Regions from separate parts of the Homo sapiens genome. Here regions 1 and 2 are each linked to region 3. The links come from fine-mapping of genetic effects on gene expression. A gene starts in region 3. Each other region holds a variant in brackets. All regions are shown on one strand. Distances are from middle to middle. Region 1 overlaps LNCOG (lncRNA osteogenesis associated). Region 2 overlaps LNCOG (lncRNA osteogenesis associated). Region 3 holds the start of LNCOG (lncRNA osteogenesis associated).

Evidence for each region. PIP is the estimated chance that this variant, and not a neighbour inherited with it, causes the effect.
Region 1: its variant is fine-mapped to the expression of LNCOG in skeletal muscle (GTEx, PIP 0.91).
Region 2: its variant is fine-mapped to the expression of LNCOG in spleen (GTEx, PIP 0.98).

What each region holds. Positions count from the first base shown.
Region 1 is chr12:76,287,882-76,298,235 of GRCh38, reverse strand. It overlaps LNCOG (lncRNA osteogenesis associated), which reads right to left. Exons shown (of 4, transcript NR_146531.1): 2 at 5,966-6,120; 3 at 4,231-4,423. Among named protein-coding and RNA genes, the nearest start is that of LNCOG, 33 kb to the right of the region's middle. The variant AG/G (reference allele first, on the strand shown) is at 4,993.
Region 2 is chr12:76,298,821-76,309,174 of GRCh38, reverse strand. LNCOG (lncRNA osteogenesis associated) reads right to left here. Exons shown (of 4, transcript NR_146531.1): 4 at 3,206-4,701. Among named protein-coding and RNA genes, the nearest start is that of LNCOG, 44 kb to the right of the region's middle. The variant G/C (reference allele first, on the strand shown) is at 6,387.
Region 3 is chr12:76,254,900-76,265,253 of GRCh38, reverse strand. It overlaps LNCOG (lncRNA osteogenesis associated), which reads right to left and starts at 5,371. Exons shown (of 4, transcript NR_146531.1): 1 at 5,273-5,371.

The DNA.
Region 1 (10,354 bases), 33 kb before region 3:
ACATCTTCAGGAAGGTGGGCTCTGAAACATCTCAAACAGGCATCTTTAGAAGCAAACCTCATTCCTTGAAAATAATTTGGAATGGCCTCACCTGAACCCTAGTATTTGCACTTTGTCTGCAACAAGACTGTAACACAGAGGTGTATATTACACAAGGGCATTTGGGTAGAGGACTGTGCAGAAAAGTTTTTGGAATTCCAACAGAAGGGAGTTTCAAATGGGGATCCAAAGTGGCTATTCAAGGCCGGGCATGGTGGCTCATCCCTGTAATCCCAGCACTTTGGGAGACCAAGGCAGACAGATCGCTTGAGCTCAAGAGTTCAAGACCAGCCTGGGAAACATGGTGAAACTCTTTCTCTACAAAAAATACAAAAATTAGCCAGGCATGGTGGTGCATGCCTGTAGTCCCTAGCTATTCAGGAGGCTGAGGTGGGAGGACGACTTGAGCCCATTGTCACGCACGTCCGCGTGAAGAGACGACCAAACAGGCTTTGTGTGAGCAACAAGGCTGTTTATTTCACCTGGTTGCAGGTGGGCTGAGTCCAAAAAGAGAGTCAGGGAAGGGAGATAGGGGTGGGGCTGTTTTACAGGATTTGGGTGGGTAGTGGACAATTACAGTCAAAGGGGTTTGCTCTCTTATGGGCAGGGGCGGGGGTCACAAGGTGCTCAGTGGGGGAGCTTCTGAGCCAGGAAAGGAATTTCACAAGGTTAATCACTCAGTTAAGGTGGGGCAGGAACAAATCACAATGGTGGAATGTCATCAGTTAAGGCAGGAACCAGCCATTTTCACTTCTTTTGTGATTCTTCACTTGCTTCAGGCCATCTGGATGTATATGTGCAGGCTTGGGCTCAGAGGCCTGACATTCCCGTCTTCTTATATTAATAAGAAAAATAAAACAAAATAGTGTTGAAATGTTGGGGCGGTGAAAATTTTTTGGGGGTGGTATGGAGAGATAATGGGTGATGTTTCTTAGGGCTGCTTCGAGTGGGATTAGGTGCGGCGTGGGAACCTACAGTAGGAGAGATTAAGCTGAAGGAAGATTTTGTGGTAAGGGGCGATATTGTGGGGTTGTTAAAAAGAGCATTTGTCATATACAAAGATTCGTGATGGCCTGGATGCAGTTTTGTATGAATTGAGAAACTGAACAGAAGACGCAAGGTCTGAATAAGAGAAGGGGAAAAACAGGTATTAAAGGACTAAGAATTGGGAGGACCCAGGACATCCAATTAGAGAGTGTCCAAGGGGGTTCAGCGTAATTACTTGTTTGGTTGGTGAGTTTTTGGGCTCTATTCTTGACAGAGTCCTTTTTGTTAAGTTGGAGGCTGAGCTTGGTGAGGTGTGTTTTTAAAAGACCATTAGCCTGTTCTACCTTTCGTGAAGATTGAGGACGGTAAGTGGTATGAAGGTTTCACTGAATACCAAGAGCCTGAGAAACTGCTTGGGTGATATGACTAGTAAAGGCCGGTCCGTTATCGGACTGTATTGAGGTGGGAAGGCCAAACCAAGAAATTATGACCGCGGTGGCCTTTTCAGACCCTGTAGGAAAGGCCTCTACCCATCCAGTGAAAGTGTCTACCCAGACCAAGAGGTTATTTTAGTTTCCTGACTTGAGGCATGTGAGAAAATTCAATTTGCCAGTCCTGGGCCGGGGCAAATCCCTGAGCTTGATGTGTAGGGAAGGGAGGGGGCCTGAACAATCCCTGAGGAGTAGTAGAATAGCAGATGGAACACTGAGAAGTGATTTCCTTAAGGACAGATTTCCAAGATGGAAAGGAAATGAGAGGTTCTAAGAGGCGGGCTAGCAACTTGTAACCTACATGGAAGAGATTATGAAATGATGATAGAATAGAATGGGCCTGTGAGGCTGGAAGGAGATATTTTTCTTAGTCCAAGAACCATTTGCCTTGTGTGGGAAGAGATTGATAGGTGGAAGTTTCAGTGGGGGAGTAGGTGGGAGTGACTGATGAGAGGGAGAAAAACTGGCCGTGAGGGACAGAAGTTGGAATGCTAGCTGCTTCTTTAGCTACCTTATCAGCATAAGTGTTACCTTGAGCAATGGGATCTGATGCCTTTTGATGGCCTTTGCAGTGAATGAATCCAGCTTCCTTTGGAAGTAAAGCAGCCTTGAGAAGAGTTTTTATTAAGGAGGCATTAATGATGGAGGACCCTTGAGTAGTGAGGAAACCTCTTTCAGCCCATATAACAGCATGGTGGTGTAGGATATGGAAGACATATTTAGAGTAAGTATAAATATTGACGTGTAGTCCCTTTGCAAGAGTGAGGGCCTGAGTTAAGGCAATGAGTTCAGCTTACTGAGAAGTAGTGGAGGGAGCAGAGCAGTAGCCTCAATGATAGATGTGGAAGACACTATAGCATAGCCTGCGTTTGTTGGTGAGTGGCTATTAGGCCTGCTGGAACTGCCATCAATAAACCAAGTGTGATCAGGATGAGGAACAGAAAAGGAGGAAATATGGGAAATGGAGTGAATGTCAGGTGGATCAGAGATACAGTCATGGGGGTCAGGTGTGGTATCAGGAATAATGTGGGAGGCTGGATTGAAGTCCGGCCAGGAACAATGGTAATTGTGGGAGACTCAACAAAGAGTGAGTACAGCTGAAGGAGCTGGGGAGCAGAAAGTATATGCATCAGGTGGGAGGAAGAAAATAGATTTTGGAAGTTGTGAGAACTGTAGAGAGTGAGTTGAGCATAGTTTGTGATTTTTAGGGCCTCTAAAAGTATTAGGGTGGTGGCAGCCACTGCACAGAGACATGATGGCCAGCCTAAACGGTAAAGTCAAGTTGTTTGGACAAAAAGGCTACAGGGCACGGTCCTGGTCCTTGTGTAACAATTCCGACTGCACAGCCCTGCACTTTGGCTGTGTGTAATGAAAAGGTTTGGGATGCAGGGAGAGCTAGTGTGGGAGCAGTCTCTAAAGCTGTCTTCAAGGAATGGAAAGAGGAGTGGGGAAAGGATTTAGGATCTATGGGGTCAACTAGGTTTCCTTTTGTGAGTTTATATAATGGTTTCATTAGGAGGCAAAACCAGGTATCCAAAGGCGAAAGTATCCAACCATGCTTAGGAAGGAAAGGAGTTGTTATTTTGTAGAAGGGATTGGGGTTTGAGAGATCAGTCAGACATGATTGGCAGGGAGAGCACGTGTGTTTTTATGAAGAATTATGCTGAGGTAGGTAACAGATGGAGAAGTGATTTGAGCTTTGGAGGATACCTGATATCCTTTGGAGAATAAATGTTGAAGGAGCAGGAGGGTGTCTTGTTGAGAAGATTCAAAGGAGGCGCTACAAAGTAGAAGGTCATCAATATATTGAATAAGGTGAGAAGTGGAGGGGTGGAAAGAAAGTAAATCATGAGAAAGAGCTTGGCTGAAGTAACGAGGGCTGTCCCTGAAGGCTTGCAGCAGCATAGCCCAGGTAAGCTGCTGGGACTGATGGATGTCAGAGTCAGTCCAGGTAAAAGCAAAGAGAGGCTAGGACAAGGGGTGTAGGGGAATAGTGAAAAAAAGCATCTTTAACATCAAGAATGGAATAGCGAGTTGTGGAGGAAGGTATTGAAGACAAAAGAGTGTACAGGTTGGGCACCACAGGGTGGATAGGCAAAACAATTTGGTTGATAAGGCACAGATCCTGAACTAACCTGTAAGACTTGTCTGGTTTTTGAACAGGTAAAATGGGAGAATTGTAAGGAGAGTTTATAGGCTTTAAAAGTCCATGTGGTAACAGGCGAGTGATAACAGGCTTTAATCCTTTTAAAGCGTGCTGTGGGATGGGATATTGGCGTTGAGCGGGGTAAGGGTGATAAGGTTTTAATGTGATGGTAAGGGGTGCATCATCCATCGCCAAGGAGGGAGTAGAGGTGTCCTATACTTGTGGATTAAGGTGGGGAGATGCAAGGACAGGATGTGAAGGAGGCTTTGAATTGGGGGGAAAGGCGGCAATGAGGTGTGGCTGTAGCCCAGGAATAGTCAGGAAAGCAGACAATTTAGTTAAAATGTCTCAACCTAATAAGGGAGCTGGGCAGGTGGGGATAACTAAAAAGGAGAGCATAAAAGAATGTTGTCCAAGTTGGCACCAGAGTTGGGGAGTTTTAAGAGAACTTAGAAGCCTGGCCATCAATACCCACAACAGTTATGGAGGCAGGGGAAACACGCCCTTGAAAAGAGGGTAATGTGGAGTTGGTAGCCTCTGTATTGATTATGAAGGGGACGGACTTACCCTTCACTGTAAGAGTTATCCAAAGTGTCTGTGATGGTCCTATAGGCTTCCCAGGCAATCAAGCAGTGTCAGTCTTCAGCTGCTGAGCCGAGAAGATCTGGGAAGGAGTCAGTCAGAGAGCCTTGGGCCAGAGTTCCAGGGGCTCTGGGAGTGGCTGCCGGGTGAGTTGGACAGTCCATTTTCCAGTGGGGTCCTGCACAGATGGGACATGGCTTAGGAGGAATCCGAGGCTGCGGGCATTCCTTGGCCCAGTGGCCAGATTTCTGGCACTTGAAGCAAGCTCCTTGGGGAGGAGGTCCTGGAGGAACACCTGGCCACTGCAGTTCAGACGTTTTGAAGTTCTTGTGTGATGGAGATGTGGCTAGAGTTTCTCTCACAGTAGAGGCAAGTAATTGCAACTCAGAAATAGTTGCTACTTGGCTGCCTCTACTCTATTATTGTACACCTTGAAGGCGAGGTTAATTAGGTCCTGTTGTGGGTTTTGAGGGCTAGAATCTAATTTTTGGAGCTTTTTCTACTGTCAGGAGGGGATTGGGTAATAAAATGCATATTGAGAATAAGACAGCCTTCTGGCCCCTCTGGGTCTAGGGCAGTAAAGTGTCTAAGGGTTCTTGCCAAACGGGCCATGCACTGGGTTTTCATACTTGGTGAAAAAGAGCCTAAACGCTAACTGATTTGGGAGAGGTTGGATAAAGAAAAAGGAGCATTAACTTTGGCTATGCCTTCAGCTCCAGCCACCTCTCTAAGAGGAAATTGTTGGGC[AG/G]GGGGGGAGGGCTAGTCGCCGAATGAAGCTGTAAGCCAGACCAGGCGTGATGAAGGAAGGTAATAGAAGGGTTATAGGGTGGGGGAGTGGAGGCTGAAGAAGAGTTGGGACCTGGATTGGCCTGGCAAGGAGCAGCCTGGGGAGGAGGGGAAAGGTCAGATGGGTCTGTAGAAAACGAGGATTCACATGACTCAGAGCTTGGGGTGGAGACTGAAGGAACTGACAGGAGAGAAAGAAGAAAGATTTGGGACGAGTTGCATTGGGAGCAGAGACTAGGGAGGGACCAATGTGTAAAAGAATGCCTGGATGTCAGGCACCTCAGACCATTTGCCCATTTTTTGGCAAAAATTATCTAGGTCTCGTAGGATGGAGAAATCAAAAGGGTCATTTTCTGGCCATTTAGAACCATTGTCAAGTTTGTATTGGGGCCAAGCGGTGTTGCAGAAGAAAATAAGACACTTAGATTTTAGGTCAGGCAAGAGTTGAAGAGGTTTTAAGTTCTTGAGAACACAGGATAAGGGAGAAGAAAGAGGAATGGAGGGTGGAAGCGTGCCCACAGTGAAGAAGGCAAGTTTAAAAAGAAGGGTAGAGACACAGAGAAGGGGGGTGGGGAGCAGCCCTGGGCTGCAATGTGGGTGAGCAGCCAAAGCAGGCGTCCCCGCGATTGACTTGCCACCAAGGGAATGTGGGTGAATGACCAAGGCAGGCGTCCCTGTGGTGATCAGACACCAATGGAATGTGGGTGAATAATCAGGCAGGCGTCCCCACAGTGATTAAACACCAAGGGAAGACTGTCTTCCCAAGTCCATGACTGGCGCCAGAGTTTTGGGTCCACGGATAAAATGTGTCTCCTTTTCTCTACTAGAGAAGAAAAAGAACTGGAATTGGAAGGACAGGGAGATTGAAGGGTAGCAAGAGAGGAAGATTGAAGGGTAGTGAGAGAGGCTGGAGAAAAGTGAAAAGACCGCTTACCCGATTTGAAATTGGTGAGATGTTCCTTGAGCTGGTTGGTCTGAGGACCCGAGGTCGTAGGTGGGTCTCCTCACAGAGTGAGGGCAAGGACAGCGGACTGGTCCCCCAAAGGAGTCTCTCTGACCTGGGTCTTCAGCACCAAATGTCACGCATGTCTGTGTGAAAAGACCACCAAACAGGCTTTGTGTGAGCAACAAGGCTGTTTATTTCACCTGGGTGCAGGTGGGCTGAGTCCAAAAAGAGAGTGAGGGGAGATAGGGGTGGGGCTGTTTTACAGGATTTGGGTGGGTAGTGGAAAATTACAGTCAAAGGGGGTTGTTCTCTTATTGGCAGGGGCGGGGGTCACAAGGTGCTCAGTGGGGGAGCTTCTGAGCCAGGAGAAGGAATTTCACAAGGTTAATCACTCAGTTAAGGTGGGGCAGGAACAAATCACAATGGTGGAATGTCATCAGTTAAGGCAGGAACCAGCCATTTTCACTTCTTTTGTGATTCTTCACTTGCTTCAGGCCCTCTGGATGTATATGTGCAGGCTTGGGCTCAGAGGCCTGACACCCATGAGGTTGAGGCCGCAGTAAGCCATGATTGCACCACTGCATTCCAGCTTGGGTGACAGAGCTAGACCCTGTCTCAGAAAACAAACAAAAAACAAACCAAAAGAAAAAACAAAAAACCAAAGTGGCTCTCCAGCCAGCACGTAAAAATGTGTAAAGACAAAGGAAGATTATATTGACACATGGAGAGAAAAGAAACCAACCCATTCCCTTTATTAGAAGGCTGGGATCTCTAAGAAGCAGATTACAAAATAAGTCCAGCAACCAAGCACACAGGGGAGGTCCCTCCATAAATGGTGGGTGAGGAGACATGGAGGGTAAAGATCAGCCATGTGAATGGGATAAGTATTCAGATAACATTTTGGGGTTCAAGCAATTTTGGCTTCTACAAAAACATTGACTTGATCTTTGTTGCATGCTACTTGCAAATGTTGTTTTCTTTTCCAGAAAACTCTTTGGTAATGGTGTCTATTCTGCAATTCACATACTTTCTGAAATTCTAGGAAAAGGGGAATAAGTCAACAGCAGCCATATTCCAGGAATTTAATGGCAGGGGAATTGTTGAAACCAGTGCCCAGAAATAAGAGTAACATCTGTTTGTTACTCCTTTCAGGTCTGATCTTAAGACGTTCCTGTTGCATCTATCTTCCACAGTTACATCCTCAGACTTTTGACATCCCCTACTTGGCTATTCTGGGTGTCATTTTGCTAACCTCTTCAGTCATGCCAGTCTCAAGTTTATCTCTAACCTGTCCACTTGATTCTTCTGGTCCCTCCACTGATGTTCATCTGTCTCAATCCTGCATTAAGAGCTCACATCATCACCATTAGTAACACAGCAGAGTGGATAATTCCCACCTCCATATTTTTATTCATTTTTTTGAGACAGTCTTGCTCTGTTGCTCTACAGGCTGGAGTGCAGTGGTGCGATCTTGGCTCACTGCAACCTCCACTTCCTGGGTTCAAGCAATTCTCATGCCTCAGCCTCCTGAGTAGCTGGGACTACAGGTGTGCACCACCACGCCTGGCTAATTTTTTTGTATTTTTAGTAGAGATGGAGTTTCACTATGTTGGTCAGGCTGGTCTTGAACTCCTGTCCACAAGTGATCCACCCTCTTTGGCCTCCCAAAGTGCTGGGATTACAAGTCTAAACCACTGTGCCCGGCCATATTTTTATTCATTTATTCACTCATTCATTCATTCAATAAGCATTGAGTACCTCCTATAGCTCAGGAAATATGCTAGATCCTGGGGCTTGAGAGATAAATGAGACACAGATTCTGTCCTTTTTAGAGCTCATAGTCTAGTTCATGGGTGGGAATAGATGTGCTAAGAAGTAATGGGCACATAGTGTATTATATGTCCCCAATCTGCACATAGTATAATATATTCCCCAATAGAGCCATGCAAATGGCATAATATAAACAGAATAGGGGGTAAAGAACTCTGCTGGAGGAAGGCACAGAGAGGACTTCCCAGAGGAGGTAACATTTGATGTGTCGTAAAGAAGGTTTCCATTCAAAGGAAGGGATAAGGGCATTTCACACAGAAGGAATGGGAAGACAACGGTTTCAAAGGAGTATGGCATGTTCAGGAGATGGCAATCAGTTTGACAAGGCAAAGGAGGCTGTTTTGTGCTTAATCATGCATGGTTTTAAAGCTAGACTGTATGAAAGTACCCAGTGTGCATTTCGACGAGCTATTAAACTTATGTGCCTCAGTTTTCCTATATGTAAAATGTGGATAAATACAGCTTCTATCCCATAGGATCGTTTTGAAATTTTAACGTGTTAACACACCTAAACACTCAAAAACAAAGCTTTATATGTTGTAACTGCACAGAAAAATGTTTGGTGTCATTTACTTATTGCCATCATCGTTGTCATCATCATCATCCCTGCTTTGCCTCTTTTTATCCTTACATTTAACTAGTCACTAAGTTGTCTCTGTTCTACTCAATATTTCTCAAATCCATATCCTTATTACTATCCCCATTCCTATTGCCTTAATTTAAGCTCTTATCCTCTAATACTTAGTCTTGCTGCCTCCGATGATTTCTCTAGCAGTTGAATTCGTACACATTCCATCAAGCCTTGGAGGAAGGAAACCAATGGAGATGAGATTAGAAAAGTAATCAGGGACTAGATAATCAAGAGTCTGCTATGGCACCATAAGAGGTTTTGACTTTATTCTGTAGCTTATGAAGAGCCATTAAATATTTTAAGCAGAGAAGTGGCAATAGGATTTGCACTGTATAAAGACAATGTGGAAATTTAGAGATGTACTCTACAGGTGTCTTTGGAAGATTGGCTGGTGAGGAGAGGAGAGGGAGGGGAAGGAAGGAATCAAGAAGACGCTTAGGGTTTGGGGCTTGAGAAACTTGGTGGATCAGGTACCATCTTCTGAGATGACTGGAGTATGGAGTTTGGGAGAGGGTGTGGCTGGAAATGAAACTAGAGAGGAAAGAATGACTTAAATCACAAAACACTTTGGGCTTTATCCCCTGAGTCCAGAAGTAAGGGCGAAGAAATGGACACTTTTTTTTCTCGGGAAAAAAAGATAGGAAAAAGTAGAGCATTCATTCTCTTCTGTTGGCTTCTCTTCTTTGCATCCTATGATAAAGTCCTTCTCTTAGCCAATCCTTAAATGCCCTCATTTGCCCTTTCAGGTTATTTAAAATGTAATTATCATTAAAGAACCAGAGAAAGTCTATCTCTTCTCAACATTGATGGAGTCTGACTACCCCAGCCCACACTAAATCTCTTTTCTGATTGCTTATTGTATTAAATATTCTGATGCTCAGTTTAGTGCTTAATAGGTCTCTAATTACTTCCTGTCATAGCTTTATCTTCCTAACTACATTGAATTGCTACCTTTAAAGGCAAAATAAATTACTGAATCCTCCAAAAGGTATACAGTAGAAACTCTATACTACCTTATGGGTTCAGAGAGGGTTAGACGGAACCTTAAGACTAACTTGTCTAGTGGTGTTCAACCTAGAATTTCACATTCCAATATGGTTATAATAGTGTCCGCATGCTGTTTTTCTTAGTTTAAGCCTCTAATAGCTGTTGCATATTTTCTTATATAAAGTCTGTGCAAGCTTCTTTGGGCAATAGTTATATTAATCCAGTTTAGTAACACTGGGGATCACATAAGAAATGAATCAGTTACTTAACAACTTCTGGTTGATTAAAAAAAATTCTTTCAAAAGATAGCAAGTATGAGAAAGGATAAAAGCATTCCTTGGTGGTAACATCACTAATCATCAAGGATATACAAATCAAAACCACAGTGCAATATCATTTCACACCTGTTTAAAATGGCTATTATCAAAAAGATGAGGCAATTTTTGGCAAGAGTGTGGAGAAAAGGAGACCTTTGTACATGGTTGGTGGGAATGTAAATTAGTATAATCAATATGGAAAACAGAACAGAGGCTCCTCAAAGCTAAAAATAGAAATACCATATATCCAGCAATCTATCTATGGGTGCATAACCAAAGGAAATGAAATTACCACCCCCATGTTTATGCATTATAATTATGCAGCATAATTTATTGCAGCATAATTCACAATATCCAAGATCTAGAAACAATAACCAAGATATGGAAACAACCTAAGTGTCCATTGATGAATGAATAGATAAAGAATTTATGGTACATGTCTACAATGGAATATGATTCAGCCTTAAAAAAGAGAGATCTTGCCATTTGTGACATGGTTGAACCTAGAGGACGTTATGCTAAGTGAAATAAGCCAGACATGGAAAGAAGAGTACTATATGATCTCATTTATGTGCAATCTAAAAAGAAAAACAAAGCTCAAATGCATAGAAA
Region 2 (10,354 bases), 44 kb before region 3:
GTCTCCTATTCTGAGACACAGCAGTGTTGAAGTTAGGTCAATTAATGACCCTACAAAGGCCTCCAAGTTTTCAACTGAAAGGAATAGTTACTTGTCTTTCACTTTAAACAAAAGGTGGAAATGATTAAGCTTAGTGAGGAAGGCATGTCTAAAGCTGAGATAGGCCAAAAGCTAGGCCTCTTGCACGGGTCGGTGAAGTTGTGAATGCAAAGAAAAAGTTCTGGAAGGAAATTAAAAGTGCTACTCCAGTGAACACACAAATGATAAGAAAGCAAAACAGCCTTCTTGCTGATATGGAGAAAGTTTTAGTGGTAGGATAAAATTTCAAACCTGCCACAACACTCCCTTAAGCCAAAGCCTAATTCAGAGCAAGGCCCTAACTCTCTTCCATTCCATGAAGGCTGGGAGAGGTGAGGAAGCTGCAGAAGAAAGGTTTGAAGCCAGCAAAGGTTGGTTCATGAGGTTTAAGGAAAGAAGCCATCTCTATAACATCAAAGTGCAAGGTGAAGCACTTTCTCCAAAAGCAGAAGCTGCAGCAAGTTATCCAAAAGATCTAGCTAAGATCATTGATGAAGGTGGCTGCTTTAAACAACAGGTTTTCAATGCTGATGAAACAGCCTTCTATTGGAAGAACATGCCACCTAGAACTTCCATAGCTGGAGAGAAGTTAATGCCTGGTTTCCAGGTTTTAAAGGATGGGCTCTCTTGTTAGGGGATAATGCTGCTGGGGATTTGAAGTTGAAGCCAATGCTCATTGAACATTCAAAAAATCCTAGGGTCCTTCAGAATGATGCTAAATCTACTCTACCTGTGTGCTCTAAATGAAACAACAGAGCCTGCGTGACAGCACATCTGTTTATAGCATCTTTTACTGAATATTTTAAGCCCACTCTTTTTTTAATTTAAAAAATTTTTATTACTTTTTAGTTTTTTGTAGAGATGGGGTCTCCCTATGTTGTCCAGGCTGATCTTGAACTCCCGAGCTCAAGTGATCCTCTCGCCTCAGCCTCCTGAAATAATTGGGTTACAAGTATGAGCCACCATGCCTGGTCAAGCCCACCCTTTAAGACCTATTGCTCAGAAAAAAAGGTTTCTTTCAAAATATTTCTGCTCATTAACAATGCCTCTGATCACCCAAGAGTTCTGATGGAGATGTACTAAGAGATTAATGTTGTTTCATGCTTGCTAACATAATATCCATTCTGTAGCACATGGATCAAGGAGTAGTTTCAACTTTAAAGACTTATTCTTAAGAAAAACGTTTCTTAAGGCTATAACTGCCACACGTAAGGATTCCTCTGATGAATCTGGGCAATGTATATTGAAAACATTCTGGAAAGAATTTACCATTCTGGTTGCCACTAAGAATATTTGTGATTCATGGGAAGAGGTCAAAATACCAACATGAGCAGGAGTTTGGAATAAGTTGGTTCCAACCCTCATGGATGACTTGCAGAGGTTCAAGACTTCACTGGAGAAAGTCACAGCAGATGAGGTGGAAATAGCAATAAAATTAGAATCAAAAGTAGAGTCTGAAGATGTGACTGAATGCTGCCATCTCAAGGTAAAACCTGAATGGACAAGGAGTTGCTTCTTATGGATGAGCAAAGAAAGTGCTTTCTGGAGAGGGTATCTAGTCCTGGTGACGATGCCATGTACAATGTTGAAATGACAACAGAAGATTTAGAAGATAACATCAACTTAGTTGATAAAGCAGAAAGCAGTAGCAGGTTTGAGAGGATTGTCTCCAATTTTGAAAGAACTTCTATGGTGGATAAAATGCTATCAAACAGCATTCCATTCTATGGAGAGATCTTTCATAAAAGGGAGAGTCAATTGATGCAGAGAACTTCATTGCTGCCTTATTTTAAGAATTGCCACACCTACCCCATCCTTTGGCAACCACCACCCTGATTAGTCAGCAACCATCAACATCAAGGCAAGACTCTACCCACAAAAAGATTACGGAAGTCATTGAAGGCTCAGATGATCATGAAAATTTTTCAGCAATAAACCATTTTTTAAATTAAGGTATATACATTGCTTTCTTAAGACATAATGCTATTGCACACTTAATAGACTACAGTGTAGAATAACACAATTTTATGTGCACAAGGAAACAAAAATATTCTTGTGACTCACGTTATTGTGATATCTGCTTTATTGCAGTAGTCTGGACCCAAACCCATAATATCTCTGAGGCATACCTACATATACAAAGCACACACTAACTGTCATCTTGGTGTCCCTATGTCTTCCAGCCTTGGGTAGTATATGTATACATTTAATGTTAAAATAAAAATGGCAGCCAGGTGTGGTGGCTCATGCTTGTAATCTCAGCACTTTGGAAGACTGAGGCAGGAGGATCATTTGAGCCCAAGAATTTGAGACCAGCCTTGGCAACATAGTTAGACTCCATCTCTACCAAAAAAAAATTTGTTTTTGATTAGCTGGGCATGGGCTGGGTGTGGTGGTTCACCCTTGTAATCCCAGCACTTTGGGAGGCTAAGGCAGGTGGATCACTTGAGGTCAGGAGTTTGAGACCAGCCTGGCCAACATGGCAAAACACCTTCTCTACTAAAAATACAAAAATTTAGCCAGGCGTGGTGGCAGGTGCATGTAATCCCAGCTACTTGGGGGGCTGAGGCAGGAGAATCGCTTGAACCCAAGAGGCAGAGGTTGAAGTGAGCCAAGATCATGCCACTGTACTGCAGCCTGGGCAAAAGAGCAAGACTCCGTCTCAAAAACAAAAAAAAAACAAAAAACAAAAAAACCCAGCCGGGAATAGTAGTACCTGCCTGTCGTCCCAGCTACTTGGGAGGCTGAAGCAGGAAGATCACTTGAGCACAGGAAGTCGAGGCTGCAGTGAACCATGATTATGCCACTGCACTCCAGCCTGAGTGACAAAGAGACCTTGTCTCAATGTCTCAAAAAAAAAAAAAAAAAAAGACTCAAGTCCTTATCCTACATACTGTGGAAAGTTCAGTGCCTTTCCCATGATTTCTGCAAACCCTAAGGTGCCTCTGTTGCTGGGGTCACTCCTGCTTAGATTTCCTGGTCCCACTAAACTCTCAATCCACCTCACATTCCACTTCTTATGGTTCTTCTCTTCTCTCTGTTACTGTCCAACAGGTTCTTCCTGCCCACTGCAAAACAAAATCAATTCATAGAGACCATGGCATTGCAGTAAAGAAAGAGTTTAATTGACACGACGCCAGCCACGCCATGTGGGAGACAGAGTTATTACTTAAATCAATCTCACCAAAGAATCAGAGGTTAGGAGTTTCTCAAAGATAGTTTGGTGTGCAGGGGATAGGGTATGGGTGCTGCTGATTGGTTTGGGATGCAATCATAAGGGTGTGGAAAACAGTCCTCATGCACTGAGTCCATTTTTGGATGAAGGCTATAGGACTGGTTGAGTCACGGGTCTGCGTGGGGCCATCTAGTTGTCAGAAATGCAAAAGGCTGTCAAAAGGCCAATCTTAGGTTCTACAATACTGAAGTTATTTACAGGAGTAACTGGGGAGGTTGCACATCTTGTGACTTCCAGAATAATGGCTGAATTCAGGCATTCAGGCCCTTCTCATCCTCCTAACTTGGTGGCCTTTCATTAATTTTACAAGGGTAGTTTAGTTTTGGGGAAAGGCTATTATCGTTTACACTATAAACTCAATTTCTGCCAAAGTTAGCTTGGCTTATGCCCAGGAATGAGCCAAGACAGCCAACCTGTGAGGCTAAAAGCAAGATGGAGTCTGCCATGTCCAATTTCTCTTATTGCCATAATTTTGCAAAGGTGGTTTCATCTCCATCCATTGTCAACTTACAAGGGAAAAACAGCATCATTTTTCTCTGATTTCCTCAACAATGCAAGAAGTTCATGTGTATCAGACATTTACCGAAGTTTGAAATAACCCATAGTTTTATAAGACCAAGGAGCACTGCAGATAATTTAAAATAACAAGCATGACTCTTCTTTAAAAACCCCTGGAGAAAATAGATGAGGTAAATATGCCAAAAAGGTAATAACATCTAAAACTGGATAGTTACACAGTGTTATCTTGCTATTTTATTTGATTTTTAATATTTTATTTATATAGTTTTTATAATGAGTTTAAACAACGAAATTAGTCATGGGGCCACAGAAGATACTTTGCTGTCTGTGTTAGGATAAAGGCAAAACTGCCATAACAAAGAATTTCTGAAATGCAGGGGCTAGTGATACAGAAGTTTATTTCACCCTCACACAACAGTCTTCGGGGTGAGTGGCCCAGGTGGGTGAGATGACTCCACATGGCCACATAGGGATCCAAGTTGTTGGGTCCAAGTTGTTCCATCTTGTTTCTCCACCTTCCCCTAGGGCCTTGTCCTTTGCTGCACAAAGTCGGGCTGCAGACACAGCCATGTTCCCATTCACAGATAAGACAAAGAGTGGAAATGGAGGGCGGTCATATTTTTTTTTAAACCAATGAACCCAAGTGCATACATCACTTCCACTTACATTCCACTGTCACGTGGCCACACCTGGCCACAAGGGTGACTAAGAGGTGCAGTCTTTAGGTAGGTAGCCATAGGCCCAGCTAAATGCTGTTCTTCTGGAAGAAAGGGAGAATGGCCTTTGGTGAATTCATGGCAGGCTCCACTTCACTGTCGGTCTCCCTCTATGGGACCCTGGCATTCCTCCCTGCAGTGGCGCTTTTTTGTCTAAAAGGAAGTGAAAGGCTTTTCTCATGAAATACGATTTAAACAGAGACTTGAAGGCAGCTGCGTGGGTATCTGAGTAAGAACATTCCAGCACAGGGAACGACAAGCGTCAGAGGCATTTAAACCAAACAGACTCCATCTTGAAAAGTGGCTGGGTAAAATAAGGCTGAGACCTACTGGGCTGCATTCTCAGGAGGTCAGGCTTTCTTAGTTATGGGATGAGATAGGAGGTTGGCCACAAGGTGCAAGTCATAAAGACCTTGCTGATAAAACAGGATGTGGTAAAGAAGCTGGCTAAAACCCACCATAACCAAGATGGTGATGAAAGTGACTTCTGGTCATCCTCACTGCTTACTATACTCTAATTATAAGGCATTAGCATGCTGAAAGATATTCTCACCAGCACCACGACAGTTTACAAATGCCATGGCAACGTCAAGAAGTTAACCCTATGGTCTAAAAGGGAGAGGAACCCTCAGTTCCAGGAATTGCCCACCCCTTTCCCAGAAAATTCATGATTAATCCACCCCTTGTGTAGCATATAATCAAGAAATAACTATAAGTATGCTCAGTTGAGCAGTCCAGGCCACTGCTCTGCCTATGGAATAGCCATTCTTTTATTTCTTTACTTTCTTAATAAACTTGCTTTCACTTTATGGACTTGCCCTGAATTCTTTCTTGCATGAGATCCAACAGCCCTCTCTTGGGGTCTAGATCAGGACCTCTTTCTGGTAATACAAGTACCAAGCCCATCCAGACAATGCAAGGTGCCAGAGGTCTCAGAGAGTGAAAGGAAGTGATGCCCATTGTCAGCCATAGCCAAGCAGTTGGATTGATTCTGAGATGATGTGTCACTGGAGGGCTCCAAGCAGAAAAGTAATATGATCTGGTTTATACTTTATAAGGATTATTTCAGCTGCTGTGTGAAAAATAGCCTGTGGGGGTAAGAGTGAAGACTGACAGGCTCATTCGGAGGCTACTGAAATAATCTAGGACAGAGACACTGGTGGCTTGGGTGTGGAGGTGTTGTGGAGGTGGGGACAAGTGGTCAGGCTCCAGACACATTTTTTTCGATGGAGCCAAAAGGACTTAAAGGAATGCATGTAGGATGTGAGAGAAGTAGAGGAATCCAAGATGACTTCAGAGATTTGTCCTGAGCCACTAAAAGGCTGGCATTGCCACTGACAGAGCTGCATAGGGCTGGAGAATGAATGGGTTGAGGTGGTGGGGCAAGGAATATTGAGCTCATTTGTAGATATATTGGCAATGCCATGTTGCAGAGTGACTGACTATACAACTCATGGGAGGGCTAAGTCATTAGTATATAAATAGCATTTAAAGCCATGGGCTTGTATGAGACCCCTAGGAAGTGAGTATAGCCAGAAAGGGAGAGTGGCCAAGGCTGGAGCTCTGGGAGCTCCAATATTCAGATGGCAGGAAGATGCAGACCAAAAGAGTTTGAGAGGAAGCAGCCAATGAAGTAAGAAGGGAACTCAAAGTGGCATGACATCTGTATCAGTCCACTTTCACACTGTGATAAAGATACTACCTAAGACTGGATCATTTATAAACAAAAGAGGTTCAATTGACTCACAGTTCCACATAGCTGGGGAGGCCTCAGGAAACTTACAATCATGGTGGAAGGCAAACGAAAAGAGAGGCAAGACTTACATGGTGGCAGGAGA[G/C]AGCGTCCATAGGGGAAACTCCAGACACTTAAAAAAAAACAAACAAAAACAAAACAAAACAAAAAACAAAAAAAAAAAACACATCTCGTGAGAACTCCTTCACTATCATGAGGATAGCATGGGGGAAACAGCCCCTATGATCCAATCACCTCCCACCAGGTCTCTCCCTTGACATGTGGCGATTACAATTCGAGATGAGATTTGGAAGTGAGTGTAGCCAAAGCATGTCAACGACCCAAAGGGAAATTGCAGAAAGGGCCCCAAGGAGGTGAGATGAGTGCTGGGAATTGACCATAGGGCTCAGCAATTGGAAGCACATGGTAATAGCATTGTCAGTGAAGTTGTGGGCATCATGGCCTGGCTGGAGTAGATCCATGAGACAATGACCCATGAGAGGAGCTGGAGACAGAAACTAAAGATATGGCTTGTGAATTTTGGCTTAAAGGAGATCAGGGAAATTGGGTGGTAGCTTGAAGAAGATGTGGATTTAAGGGAATATTTCTCTTTTTTTTCTTTCTTTTTAAAAAAAGATTAAGAGATATGAAATACTGATGGGAATTACCCAGTAGGAAGGAAGAGGGCACAACTGCAGGAGCTGAGTGCTTGAGTAGGTGAGAGGGGCTGGGACCCACTTCACAGGACTTTAAGGACAGCCCAAGTGGTTGATGGTAGCAGGAAGGTTGAAGGCCAGGTGTGAGGCACAGGCACAGCCTCCTCAGGAGAATCCGTGGTGGAAGCAGGTGAAGGTTATCTTCTGATTTTCTCAGTAAATTAAGAATTTGAGGTTAGGCACAGTGGCTCACACCTGTAATCCCAGCACTTTGGGGAGGCCAAGGCAAGAGAATCGCTTGAGGCCAGAAGTTCAAGACCAAACTAAGCAACATAGCAAGCCCCTGTCTGCAAAAAATGTAAAAAAACAAAATTAACCAAGTGTGGTGGTGCGTGTCTATAGTCTCAGCTACTCAGAAGGCTGAGGTGGGAGGATCACTTGAGCCTGGAAGGTGGAGGCTGCAGTGAGCTTTACCGTTGCACTCCAGCCTGGGTGACAGAGCAAGACCCTATCTAAAAAAAAAAAAAAAAAAAAAATTCAGATAGGAGGTTGTGGGTGTCACAGGGGAAGGGCCATCTGAATTTGGAGGAGAGGGGAGAAGTATGAAATTGTCTCAAGATGGGGAGAATAAGTTGACTAGGGAAGTGGCTCTCAAACTTGACGGCACATCAGCATCACCTGGAGGACTTGACAAAGCAGACTGACAGGCCCCGCCTTCTGAGTTTTTAATTCAGGAGGTCTGAGGTGGAGCCTGAGAATTTGCTTTTCTAACAAGTTCCTGGTGTGATATGGTTCGGTTCTTCTCACTTTCCTCCTGCTGCCTTGTGAAGAAAGTGCCTGCTTCTCTTTTGCCTTCCACCATAATTGTAAGTTTCCTGAGGCCTTCCCAGCCATTTGAAACTGTGAGTCAACTAAACCTCCTTTCTTTATAAATGACCCAGTCTCAGGTAGTATTCATTATAGCAGTGTGGAAATAGACTAATACATGGCGATATTGATGCTGCTGGGCCAGGAACCTCACTTCGAGAACCGCTGGACTAGGAAATGTGGAGAGATTCCTGAGGAGCATGAGAAGTCCTTGTGAGGTTAGTGTCCATGAGAACTGTGAGCAAGGGTGGGTGTTTTTCTCCAGCCATGTGCAATGTCTCAGATGCTGGCATGGATTTAACCAGAGTGGTGTTTTGCCAGATAAACAGGAGAGAGGCACTGGGTATTTATTATAATGGATTATGCTGTCTAGCTTAGGTAAGAAGTAAGTTAGACTGGGGCTAGTGTGAGGCACAGGCCAGGTGCCTAGGGTGCACCATTTAAAGAGACAAAATTTGCAAGTGCCCACCTGCTCTCGCAGGACCCTGAGAGTGTGTGTTTCCTTAGATGTTGCACCCTAGGCTCTCCCTTGTCTCCCTCTAGTCCTGGCTATGGAAGTGAGGACATAGGGCATTTGGGGGAGTAAATAGGTAATAGGATCAGTAGTTTAGAGATCCTCATTGGGTTGAAGAATTATTAAAATTGGGGTACTAGAGGAAGTGACTCAAAAATATGAGACAGTTTAAGATTTAGATGTTTGAGTGTAAGACTATGGAGTAAACGTGAGCAACATAATGAAATCTGTATAAAAAATAAAAAATTAGCTGGACACAGTGGCTCATGCCTGTAGTCCTAGCTACTCGGGAGGCTAAGGCAGGAATATTGCTTTCGCCCAGGAGTTCAAGGCTGCAATGAGCTATGACTGTACCACAGCACTCCAGCCTGGATGACAGAACGAGACCCTGTTGTCTCTTAAAAAAATTTTAAAGACTATGGAGTAGATACAATTCTTGCCATTCATGAAGTCTAGACGTGTATATGACTAAGGGAGTAAGCGGGTGGCTAAGAAGTGGAGGACAAAATCATTAAAGGTGAAGAAGTTGAGGAAATTTTAAAGGCCAGGGAACTAGAAGAATCATCTTCATGGACACTAAACCCCCCAAGAATCATGACTAGAGCTGTAGAGATAGAACTAGTAAACCTGGACCTAAAATTTTCCAGGAACGAGGGAGAGTAACTTCAGGTCCTACATAATTGAAACTTCTGTGATTCTGAGATAATCCCTTAGGAATTCTGTCCCTGCTGGGGAAGTCCCGGTGTGACAGCTGGTGTGACACAATGCCTGCTTACTGGATCAGACATTTCCGATGCCTCACTCAGGAGGAGGCTGAGATCCTGATATATATTAAATATATATTTTTAATATATTTTAACATATATTTAATATATCCAGGATATATTCAGAGTTGAGCCCAGTTATTGCATGGAATCCTTAACCAGAGGTTTAACGTCCAGATGAAGTGCTGCTCCTATTCCATGTTGAATGTTTTCTGACACAAAAGCAAGAATGCTCTCCCTGCCCTCCAGCTGTCAATAATTATAAAAGATGACCATCAAGAACATAGGTATAAAACAGAAGGTCTGGTCACAGCCCAGTGTGGGTTCTCTTGAGTTTTCATTTGCACAGAACCACGGCCACCAAACCACAGCATAGGTTTCTGCTGTTTTTGAGCCAGCTCATGGGTTAATGTTTCCCAGTCCTGGTCATTTGGAGTCAGTAGTCCACAGTGCATACTATGCATTTTCTTCTTCATCCATTCCCATCTTAATCCCTACAGTGACACTTCTAGTCACCCCCAATCAAAAAATGTATAATTATTTCCAGTCTTCATTCTTCTTGATGACATTCTATCATAATTTGCCTGATGACTGTCCTTTTCTGGTTTGATCCCCCACACTTTCCCCTGCTGGTCCCTTTCCTTGCACCCTCTTCATTCTGTGATCTCGTATCCCTTTTGCCCTGTAAGGGCTCACTTGTTGGCTCAAATTCATCCCAGACTGAACTGAACTAGACAATTTACAAATTTTCTGAATTTATAAATTTTCTAACTTAGTAATAAGCTGATGTTGCTGGTGGTCCTGTTCTGGCCTTGTTACCCTGGGAGTGGGACTAGGTTTCTACCTGTCCATACTTTCCAGAGGTTGAGTCCTAAACACGCTGGAGGAGGCTTTGTTCCTCTTAAGATGACAGGCAGCTCAGATTAGTTCTCTCCTCTGTCACATTAGACCAAGCGCTTACCACCTGACCTCCTGATTAAGACAACAGACTTGTTGCTGAATTATTTGGCTCTGGGGTCTTCCCTTCTCTAACCCCTTAGACACTGTTGCCAGCAAAATTTTCCCAAAGCACACGTCTACAGGAATGACATTCAAAAAAACCAACAACTGGTATGGCAACAACTGGTATGTGAGCCACTGTGTCTGGCCCATAATTTTCTTAATAATACTTTATTTTCTCTAGTTTACTTTATTGTAATAATACAGTATATGATCTATATAACATATAAAATGTCTTAATTATTATTAACACAGGCCTGGCATGTTGGCTCAC
Region 3 (10,354 bases):
CCCCTGCCTCCCAGGTTCAAGTGATTCTCCTGCCTCAGCCTCCCAAGCAGCTGGGACTACAGGCACGTGCCACCACACCCAGCTAATTTTTGTATTTTTAGTTGAGATGGGGTTTCACCATGTTGGTCAGGCTGGTCTTGAACTCCTGACCTTGGGATCCACCCACCTTGGCCTCCCAAAGTGCTGGGATTACAGGCATGAGCCACTGTGCCTGGCCAGCACTGTGTTTTTAAAACAAGATAAAATTGACAGTACCTGAGGAAAGCCTACATCCAAGAAATTTGAAAGGTATATGCAAATTACCTGTGCAAACAAGAAAGTATGAGTAATTAGAGAACTACTTTATGATGATTCAATGGCCACTTTGTACCAGCAATATGGGCTTATTACCAGCAAGCTGATGTAGAAGAAAAATGTAAAGTTCTATTACTTCTGGACCATGGCTTTACAAACCCTCCTCTTGAACTTCTTGCATAATGTTTTCAGTTTTTCTTTTCCTTGCAACATGACATCAGGAGTGTAGCCTTGGAGCCAAAGAGCTTTAGAGACTGAAAAGCAAGTCTGAGCACTTCTTTCCAAACTGTATGTTTGCTTCAGTGAACAGAAGCCAGGAATCTAAGACTTCCTTAAAGAGGTTATACTCAAGGATACCATTTACAGAGCTGCCAATGCTCAGAATGATATTATTAAGTCAACATCAACAAATGCTAGGAACAGAATTTTGCTACTCCAATGTTGGAAAATAAAACCACCAACACAAACTTAGAAATATGTGGGGCCATTGATGAAAAAACAATTATGTCTATCTTTATTATTACACTAAGTTTTTATTGGCTGAAGTTGTTAGAAGAAGCTGATAGTAAAGAAATACTGATCATTGGTAGTGATGCAGTTGTATATTTTCAGTGATGGGGAGATTGCTGAAATGTTGCAAATATAGTAAGTGTGAGGATTACAGAAGATAATGATGATGATATTATAAATATAGGTGAAAAAAACACCACAGATGATCTGGTGATGTTACTTAATGTGAGGTAGTTTATAGCTAGCCTGGAGTAATATGCTTTCAATGATGATGGAAAGATTGTTGACATTTACTCAAACAGAAATTGTTTAGACAAAAATCCATGTTAATAAAACGAATGACAGGAGAAAGTTTGGTTTTTATTTAATTTTATAAAAAAAATAATTTTTAATCCGTATCATTTCTTATGATCCTGTGAATCCCAGTCCAAAGGCAGGAGAAGACCGACGTTCCCGCTCCAGCATGCAGGCAGGAAGGGGACAAATCCCTTCCTCTGCTTTTGTTCTATCAAGCTTTCAACGGGTTGAATGAGGCCTCCCCATATTGACAAGGGCAATCTACTTTCCTGAGTCCACCAATTCAAATGCTAATCTCATCTGAAAACACTCTCACAGACACACCCAGAAGTAATGTTTAATCTGGGCACCCCGTAGCCTAGTCAGTTTGACCCATAAAATTAACCATTACAGGAGTTGAGGGCTTCAACATATGAATTTTGAGGGGATACAATTCAGTCCATATCATCCGCAGACTCCACTGCTGGTATTATGTAAAATATAATATATGAATGTATAACCTTTCTAAAAATCTCTAAAATTCTAAATTATGAATTATCCAGCCAAAACCATTTCTGACAAGAGATTGTTGACCTATACAAAATATCCTATAACCTCTTTCCTTAAAAGAGTTGAGAGTATAAGACTATTGATCTAGAAAATAATAAAATTTTAGAAAAATGGAAGAAAATAGTTCTATTGCTTGTTTCTCCCTTTAAACTCCTTTTATTCTAAGGAGAGTACGGGCTTTTAAGAACTTGATGAAAGGGGTCTAGAATATCTCAACCATGATTTCATTTCAGCCCTCAGCCTACTCTGTACTTTTGTGTGAAGCCATCCAGGTCCTCAGAGTCTCATTTACTAGTCAGGAACAAGGCAGGACTGTGACTCTTACCCCAGGAACGTGCTCTTCCAAATACAGCACTCCTATCTACTCTAGATCTGCCACTTGCTGGTAGAGTGGTGGGCAATCCTCATCTCCAAAATGATAATAATGGCAGTGCTAACCGCAAGGGTTATTGTGGGGATTTGATGTGATGATCCCTGTGAAGTGCTTAGAACAGTGCCTGCTGTGTGGTGGGCTCTCGATAAATGTCATTTATTACTATGAAAGGTTAGGAAGAGTAAAAATTACTTTGGTCTTTTCCATTAAGGTGAAATTGCCTCTGCAGATAACATGATCTTATATATGGAAAACCCTAAAGACTCCACCAAAAATCTATAAGAACTAATACATAAATTTAGTAAAGTTGCAGGACACAAAATCAACATAAAGAAATTAGCTGCATTTCTATACACTAACAGCCTATCTGAAAATGAAATCAAGAAAACAATCCCGTTTACAATAGCTTTAATTAAAAAAAAAAAAAAAAAAAAAAAAACTTAGTACTGGGTGGAGTGGGTCACACCTGTAATCTCAGCACTTTGGGAGGCTGAGGTAGGAGGATTGCTTGAGCCCAGGAGACCAGCCTGGGCAACATAGTGAGACCTTGTCTCTACAAAAATTTTAAAATTTGGCCAGGTGTGATGGTGTACACTTGTAGATACAGCTTCTTGGGGAGCTGAGGTGGGAGGATTGCTTGAGCCCAAGAAATTGAGGCTGCAGTGAGCTGTGATTGCACCACTTCATTCCAGCCTGGGCAACAGAGCAAGATCCTGTCTCAAAAAAATAAAAATAAAAATAAAAATATAAATAAACACTTAGGAATAAATTTAACTGACATGAAAGATCTGTACAGTTAAAATTATAAAACACTGATGAAAGAAATCGAAGACACCAATAATGGAAAGATACCCTATGTTTACAGATTGGAAGAATTGTTAAAATGTTTATACTATCTACATAAAGCAATCTACAGATTCAATGCAATCTCTATCAAAACTCCAGTGTTTTTTACAGAAATAGAAAAAATAATTCTAAAATTCATATGGGATCCTTAATGACCCTGAGTAGCCAAAGCAATATTGAGAGAAAAAAAAAAAAAAGCTGGAAGCATCATACTATTTGATATCAAAATACACTACAAAGCTATAGTAATCCAAATAGCATGGTATTGGCACAAATACAGACATGTAGACCAGTGAAACAGAGATCCCAGAAGTAAATCCATGTATTTACAGTCAACTGATCTTTAACAATGGTGCCAAGAATACACAATAGGGAAAGAAGAGTCTCTTCAATAAATAGTGCTGGAAAAACTGCATATCCACATGCAGAAGAATGAAATTAGATCCTTATCTCATACCATATACAAATATCAACTCCAAATGGATTAAAGACTTAAAGTAGATCTGGAAAAAGGAAACTCTCTAAACAAAAGTCCTCCTCCCTACCCCTCTTCCAGCTGCTTTGCATCTGTTTGTGGAGCTCCACTTTTGTCCCCTTAAAGGTAAATGAGCACTTTCCTCCTTCCATTTCCACTGCACAGGTAACTCTCAAAGGACTTCACACTCATTAACTCCAGCATGGAGAGCAAGGGACTAAAGAGCAACACTTTTCAGAGACAGTTTTTTAGAACATTTATTTTCTGATGATGATGGTCTTCCTCTGTTTTCCCAGAGTTGGATGCCTACCTAGAGAATCTCCAAAAAATGCAACAGTGTGCTTTGATGTTTGCCTACCATAGTTACCATTGTTAAATACTATTTATGGGTCCGGGCACTTCTAATCAAAAAGTGCCTGTAATCCCAGCACTTTTTGATTAGAATGTTAGAACTTTCAGCCCCATCCACCACTCCTATCACTATGCAAGGGAAAGGGGTTGGAAATTGAAGCTGGATGAGCACATTGGCTCACGCCTGTAATCCCAGCACTTTGGGAGGCTGAGGTGGGTGGCTCATTTGAGGTCAGGAGTTCAAGACCAGCCTGGCCAACATGGTGAAACCCCATCTCTACTAAAAATACAAAAATTAGCCAGACGTGGTGGCAGGCACCTGTAGTCCCAACTACTCATGAGGCTGAGGCAGGAGGATCACTTGAACCCAGGAGGCAGAGTTGCAGTGAGCCAAGATTGCACCACTGCACTCCAGCCTGGGCAGCAGAGCGAGACTCCGTCTCAAAAAAAAAAAAAAATAGTGAATGACTCAGTCTATTTGGGCTGTTATAACAAAATAGTATATACTGGGTAATTTATAAACAATGGAAAGTTGTTGCTCACAGTTCTGGAGGCTGGGAAGTTCAAGACCATCCTGGCCAACATGGTGAAACCCCATCTCTACTAAAAATACAAAAATTAGCCAGGCATGGTGGTATAAACCTGTAGTCCCAGCTACTTGGGAGGCTGAGGCAGGAGAATTGCTTGAACCCGGGAGGTGAAGATTGCAGTGAGCCAAGATCATGCCACTGCACTCTAGCCTGGGTAACAGAGTGAGACTCAGTCTAAAAAAAAGGAAAAAAAAAAATATGGGAGGCCACTGTTTTGGACTGATTCCTGCACTAGGCTCCATCAGCCGGGACCAAATCAAAATGAAATAAATTCTAGCTTCCACATAATTAAACTGAATTTAGAAATGGGCCAGTTAAAAAAAAAAATCTAGGAGATTCTCAGCAACCAATCCAAAGCCACCAAGTCAACCTGAGCTGACATAACATGAAAGGCCCTCTGCTTTAACCCATACAAGGAAAGTTAACTGAAGCCATCTGATGTTAACCAACCCACTTTTGGCATGACACCATTTCCTTCTTGCTTAAGCTACCTTACAGAAATCAACTGTTCTGCCAACCCTGGAGGAATGTCTTTCCATTTTATGAATGGGATGCTGACCAACTCATAATTGCTAATAAAAGCTAATGAGATCTTTAAATTCAATTTGTTGAAATATTGTTCTCTGTCATCCTCTACCCCATCACCTGTGCTCAGCACCACACCTCTGCTTCACTGTGCCCCTTTATTATTTTTCTAAAGCTGAACAAATCACATGGGCCCCACAGTTAGTGTTTACCTTATGCAACGACCTGTGTGGCCCCTATCAGAGCAAACAGAGAAACAGAAAGATACTCTTCCCCCCATATTAATTCCTCCTCTGCTCAAAAATGGCTTAAATTTCTTGAATTTCTTCAAGCCAGCCAAATGACAATCACAGTCATTATCTAAATGCAAACCCTTCTGAGATAGTGCTTTAATTCACAGTAAGATTCAAATAAATCATAACATCATATCTCGAGGGCAGATTTTCTTAAATGGGTACATACCGTTTTCATCAGTTGTTTTCTTAGAGCTCTGGATATTTCTCTTGTAAGAGGAACAATCTGTGCAATTACAGTTCTGTAAAATACAGCTACAGAATGCTCTGACTTAAGTGTCAGGAGAACAGCCAAGGAGCAAGTTGAGAACTGCCTGGAAGGACCTCTGGCATTACTTTAAAGCCCTGCCAGATCACTTCCGGTATCACATCATCAATTTCCTACCCCAGCTTCACTGACTCCCTATATTAGCATTTCCTGTTAATGTTTTTCATACCCACATGTGAGGGTTACATGGAATTTTAAGTTAGATTCAATAGAAGGAGCAGCAGTATAGAAATACAGTTATTAAAATTCCACTGGTATCTTTCTACTTGTTTTAATGACTACTAAAAACTTAAAAATTATATTGTGTGGCTCACACTATATTTCTATTAGGCAGTGCTGCCTTAGAAAATTCTAGTCATTTTCTAACAGAAAACCTATATGTACAATTAAAAACACTTAAACTGTGGGGGGTTACTAACAACATATACCCTTTCCCCCATTCGGTTTCTCTCTGTAAGCAGTTTAAATTACCTCTTCATTTGCTGAAGATAAAAACTTCAATATTTGAGGATTAAGAAGAGCAAAAGAGGGTCAGAGAAAGGAGATGTTCCCTGCCAGCAGTGTCCTTGTCACATGCTGGGAAGTGAGTTGGCCTAATGGCATTTAACAGTTTGACATGTGAAAAAGAAGAAAACAAGCTGCCTTTTAATCCTGGCATTCTAACCTCTCTCTTCTAATCTCTCCCTAGCCTCTGTCTTCTAGGAATGTGGGATACATTGGGTTGGGAAGTAGAGTGACCTTTGACAGAGATTGGGATGGGGTCCAGGGCAGCTGGCTCCTCTGAATAAATAGGTAAAGACAGGTACAATTAAATAGGGAGTAAGCATTTGCTCAGATGCAGTAGTCCACTAGGAGCCAGTAATCTGTCTAAGTCAATAGAATCCAGAGAAAGTCAAGGTAGTGTGAAGACAATGACGGAAAACTTCATCCACAGAGAAGAAAGAGTAGAATGAACAGATGACCACAGTCTTCCGATGGATGAAGAACCAGCTGTCCACTAAGACTTGTCCCTCATGGCTAAATTGCAGTACCAAAGTTATCTTTCCTGAAGCAATTAGTCTTACATTTTCTCTCTTGCTGTTCACATATTGTTGTTCTGCCATTGAGAAGCAAATGATGGCCAGGTGCGGTGGCTCACACCTGTAATCCCAGAACTTTGGGAGGCTGAGGCGGGTGGATCAGGAGTTCAAGACCGGCCTGGCCAGCATAGTGAAACCCCATCTCTACTAAAAATACAAAAATTAGCTGGGTATAGTGGTGGGAACCTGTAATCCCAGCTACTTGGGAGTCTGAGGCAGGAGAATCACTTGAACCCAGGGGGGCGGAGGTTGCAGTGAGCTGAAATCGTGCCGCTGCACTCCAGCCTGGGTGACAAGAGGGAAACTCTATCTCAAAAAAGAAAAAAAAAAAGAAGCAGCAGCAAATGATGTGTAGAGACTATGGAGACTCTTCTGTCCTCCCACAGATAATGTGCAGATAACATCATTCCAACATCTAAAAATGTGTTATTCATTTATTTCTGCAGAGGCAATATTCTTAGTATTGTACCAGTGACAGCCCTTGGGAGTTACTAACTGTTTATAGAAGAAATTTTTCCTGATGAAATAAAGATTCTGAGTTAATGTCTCTTTTAATATCTTGGAACATTCTGGGGGAGGCTGACATTTTAAAAATATCTTGCTTTGAATATAGGGTCTCTACAGTTGATATATCTAAGCACAATATCAATATGGAATCAGAAATTAGAATAAAAGTGAGCTGGGTATGGTGGCTCATACCTGTAATCTCAGCACTTTGGGAGGCCAAGGTGGGAGGATCACTTGAGCCCAGGAGTTTGAGATCAGCCTGGCCAACATAGTGAGACCTCATTAGAAAGAAAAAAAAAAAGGGCCAGATGCGGTGTCTCATGCCTGTAATCCTAGCACTTTGGGAGGCCAAGGCGGGCGGATCATGAGGTCAGGAGATCGAGACAGTCTTGGCTAACACGGTGAAACCCCGTCTCTACTAAAAATACAAAAAAGTTAGCTGGCGTGGTGGTGGGCGCCTGTAGTCCCAGCTACTCGGGAGGCCGGGGCGGGAGAATGGCATGAACCTGGGAGGCGGAGCTTGCAGTGAGCCGAGATTGCGCCACTGTACTCCAGCCTGGATGACAGAACAAGACTCCATCAAAAAAAAAAAAAAAAAAAAAAAGAAAATTCTTTCTTTTTCTTTCTTTTTCTGAGACAGTGTCACTGCATCCTCAACCTGGGATCTCAGCCTGGGTCCACAGGCATCTACCACCATGCACAGCTTATTTTTTAATTTTTTGTCGCGATAGCATATCTTACTATGCTACTCAGGCTAGTCTTGAAATCCTGGGCTCAAGTAGTCCTTCCAACTTGACCTCCCAAAGTGCTGGGATTATAGATGTGAGCCACCACACAGATGCTAACTTGCTGAAGATATTATTGAAAAGTTATCCTATTAAGATTTTATTAATATTATAAATTATTAAATATTTTATTGTATTATTATCTTGGTATCTGATTCATTCTCTCTTCCCATGGTTTCTTTGTAACTTAGGCTAAGATAGTTATGTGTGTGTGTGTGTGTGTGTGTGTGTTTATGACAACAAATATGTCATTTCAACACAACAAATTCTCCAATTCTCCAGCACCAACTTGGTGCCCAACAATTCAATCCAGTTCTAACACTAACTGCCCAGAGTTAGCACAGACCTCATAGGTTGAGGGCTCAGGACCACAAGCCTACTCCCATTTTAGATGTCAGCCACAAATGAAGTCCCAGGGCTACCCACACTTCTGGCCAACTGACTACTGGTTTGGGGATTCCTATGACACTCCCCCCCACCAACTGGGGTTTGATAATTCGCTAGAGTGACTCAGAGAACTCAGGAAAATGCTTTACTTATAAAGGGTACAATTCAGGAAAAGCCAAATGAGAGAGATGATCATTAGGGCAAGGTATAGAGGCTTGGGATGCTGAGAGTCCATGTCTTTTCTGGGCAGGCTCATACCTTCCATGTCCACCACACATCATGTAGGCATAGTTGATTAAATCATTGACTGTTGATAATTGCACTCAATTTCCAACCCCTTTCCTGTGTGTAGAGGTGTGACAGGGGATGGGGCTAAAAGTTCTAACCTTCTAATCAGAAAGTTTTTCTGGCAACCAGCCCCAATACTGAAGCTAACTAGGTTGCCTCCACAGTCATCTAAGTAGCATACAAGCAACAGTAAATGCCAAGGGTTTTAGGAAGGAATAAAGACCACATATTTATTTTTTGTTATACTCCAACAATGATCATGGTAAATAATATTAATCATTAACATTTGTTGGATGTCAGGCAGTGTTCTAAGAACCACATAGGCATTTGGTCATTCCTATGTGGTGGAGGCTGATGAGGTGAGGGCGGAGAGAATGTAGAACTCTCAGATTCTGATATAGTAGGCAGAGGATGGGGCTCAGGAGTCAGCATTTTTAATAAGCTTTCCAGGCGACTCTAATTCAAGTGGCCCACAGATTACTCCTTGAAAGGAGGTAATAACCCTTGAGAGGAGTTGTGACACGGTTCTACCTTGTTTAGTCCAATGCTGCAATAACACCAAAAGAGATGTCTTTATTCAGATTCAGAAATGTCTCATTTATATTCTCTGAAGGTGATGTATCTAATGCTTGTGAAAGATTTTATTCTAATGCTAATTTGGTATCACAGAACTCAAGAGACACTCAGTCCCATTTAGTTTCTGGAATGGAGAGTAAAGTACATGAAAATCTCTAGTCCCCCTGGAGACTTGACTTACACCCCAGCAATAGACTGATTCAAAGCAGAGTGTCTTGATTTTGTCATCATTGATATTTGGGGCTGGATAGTTCTTGGTTGTGGGGAGCTGTCCTCACATTGTAGGATGTTTAGCAGCATTCCTGACCTCTATTTACTAAATATCAGCAGCATCTGCTCCTCCACCTCCCAGTGCTGATGACCAAAAATGTCTCCAGACATTGCGAAATGTTCTCTGGGGGACAAAATTGGCTCTAGATGAGAACACTGTTCTAAAGGATATAGGTGAAGAGTGCTGTGATGACCCTCATATTCTTGGCTCTCTCTTTTTGTTAAATGGGTTTCTGTTGTGGGGACATCCACGAAGCAGCAACATTCAGTGAGGAGCCAAAGACAGCACTGAGCTCAAGAGAAATAAGAACAAATCCCTGGATCCAGCTCGGGCCAACCAGATGCCTTCTTGACCTTAAGTGAGGGTCTCAGTAGGGTGAGGTGGGGACGAGAATCTTGCTGGCGGCACTTCCCCCCAGAATTTAAAGTAACCCTGAAATGTAGATGAAATCATTTTCACACATCTTCACCACAACTCAAAGTACCCAAATGAGTCTGCTGAAAAACACCAACCTATCAACAGAAACATTTCCAGGAGCAGTTCTTGGGCATTGTGAATGTGCAATTGCCTCAATGCATGCCTGTAACTACTATTACCATCAGAAGCAGGACCTGGGATGTCAGGGCCTTTTCAGGGGGATTAGCACTGACATGAACATCAGCTTAGGAGATATTGCCAACATTATTAATAGACACTTTGCCCCAGCTTGTTGAGAATGGTCCAAGCAGTTCTATTTTCACAGAATAAATCCGGGTGGCCCGTCCACTAGGAGAAATGTAAAAATGCAATCATCGATTTCTCTGTAGATTCAGGAACTTTATGTGTAGTGAGGGGGAAGAAAACAGAAATGAAATCCTCTTCCCGCCTTTGCTGCCCAGAAAATGAAATATGTCCTCCTAGAATCTGTTTGGATGATTCCATTGGAACAGGATGATGCACCTGTAGAAACTCCTTTTAATTTTTCAACATGGAAAGAAACAGGGACCCCTGAAATTGTAATCATAAGGAACTGTACAGGGACTCTTTCCCCTGATGGATGCTGGACACATGTACTTGGAGTATGCGTTCAGTGATGTGTCCAAGAGTGAGG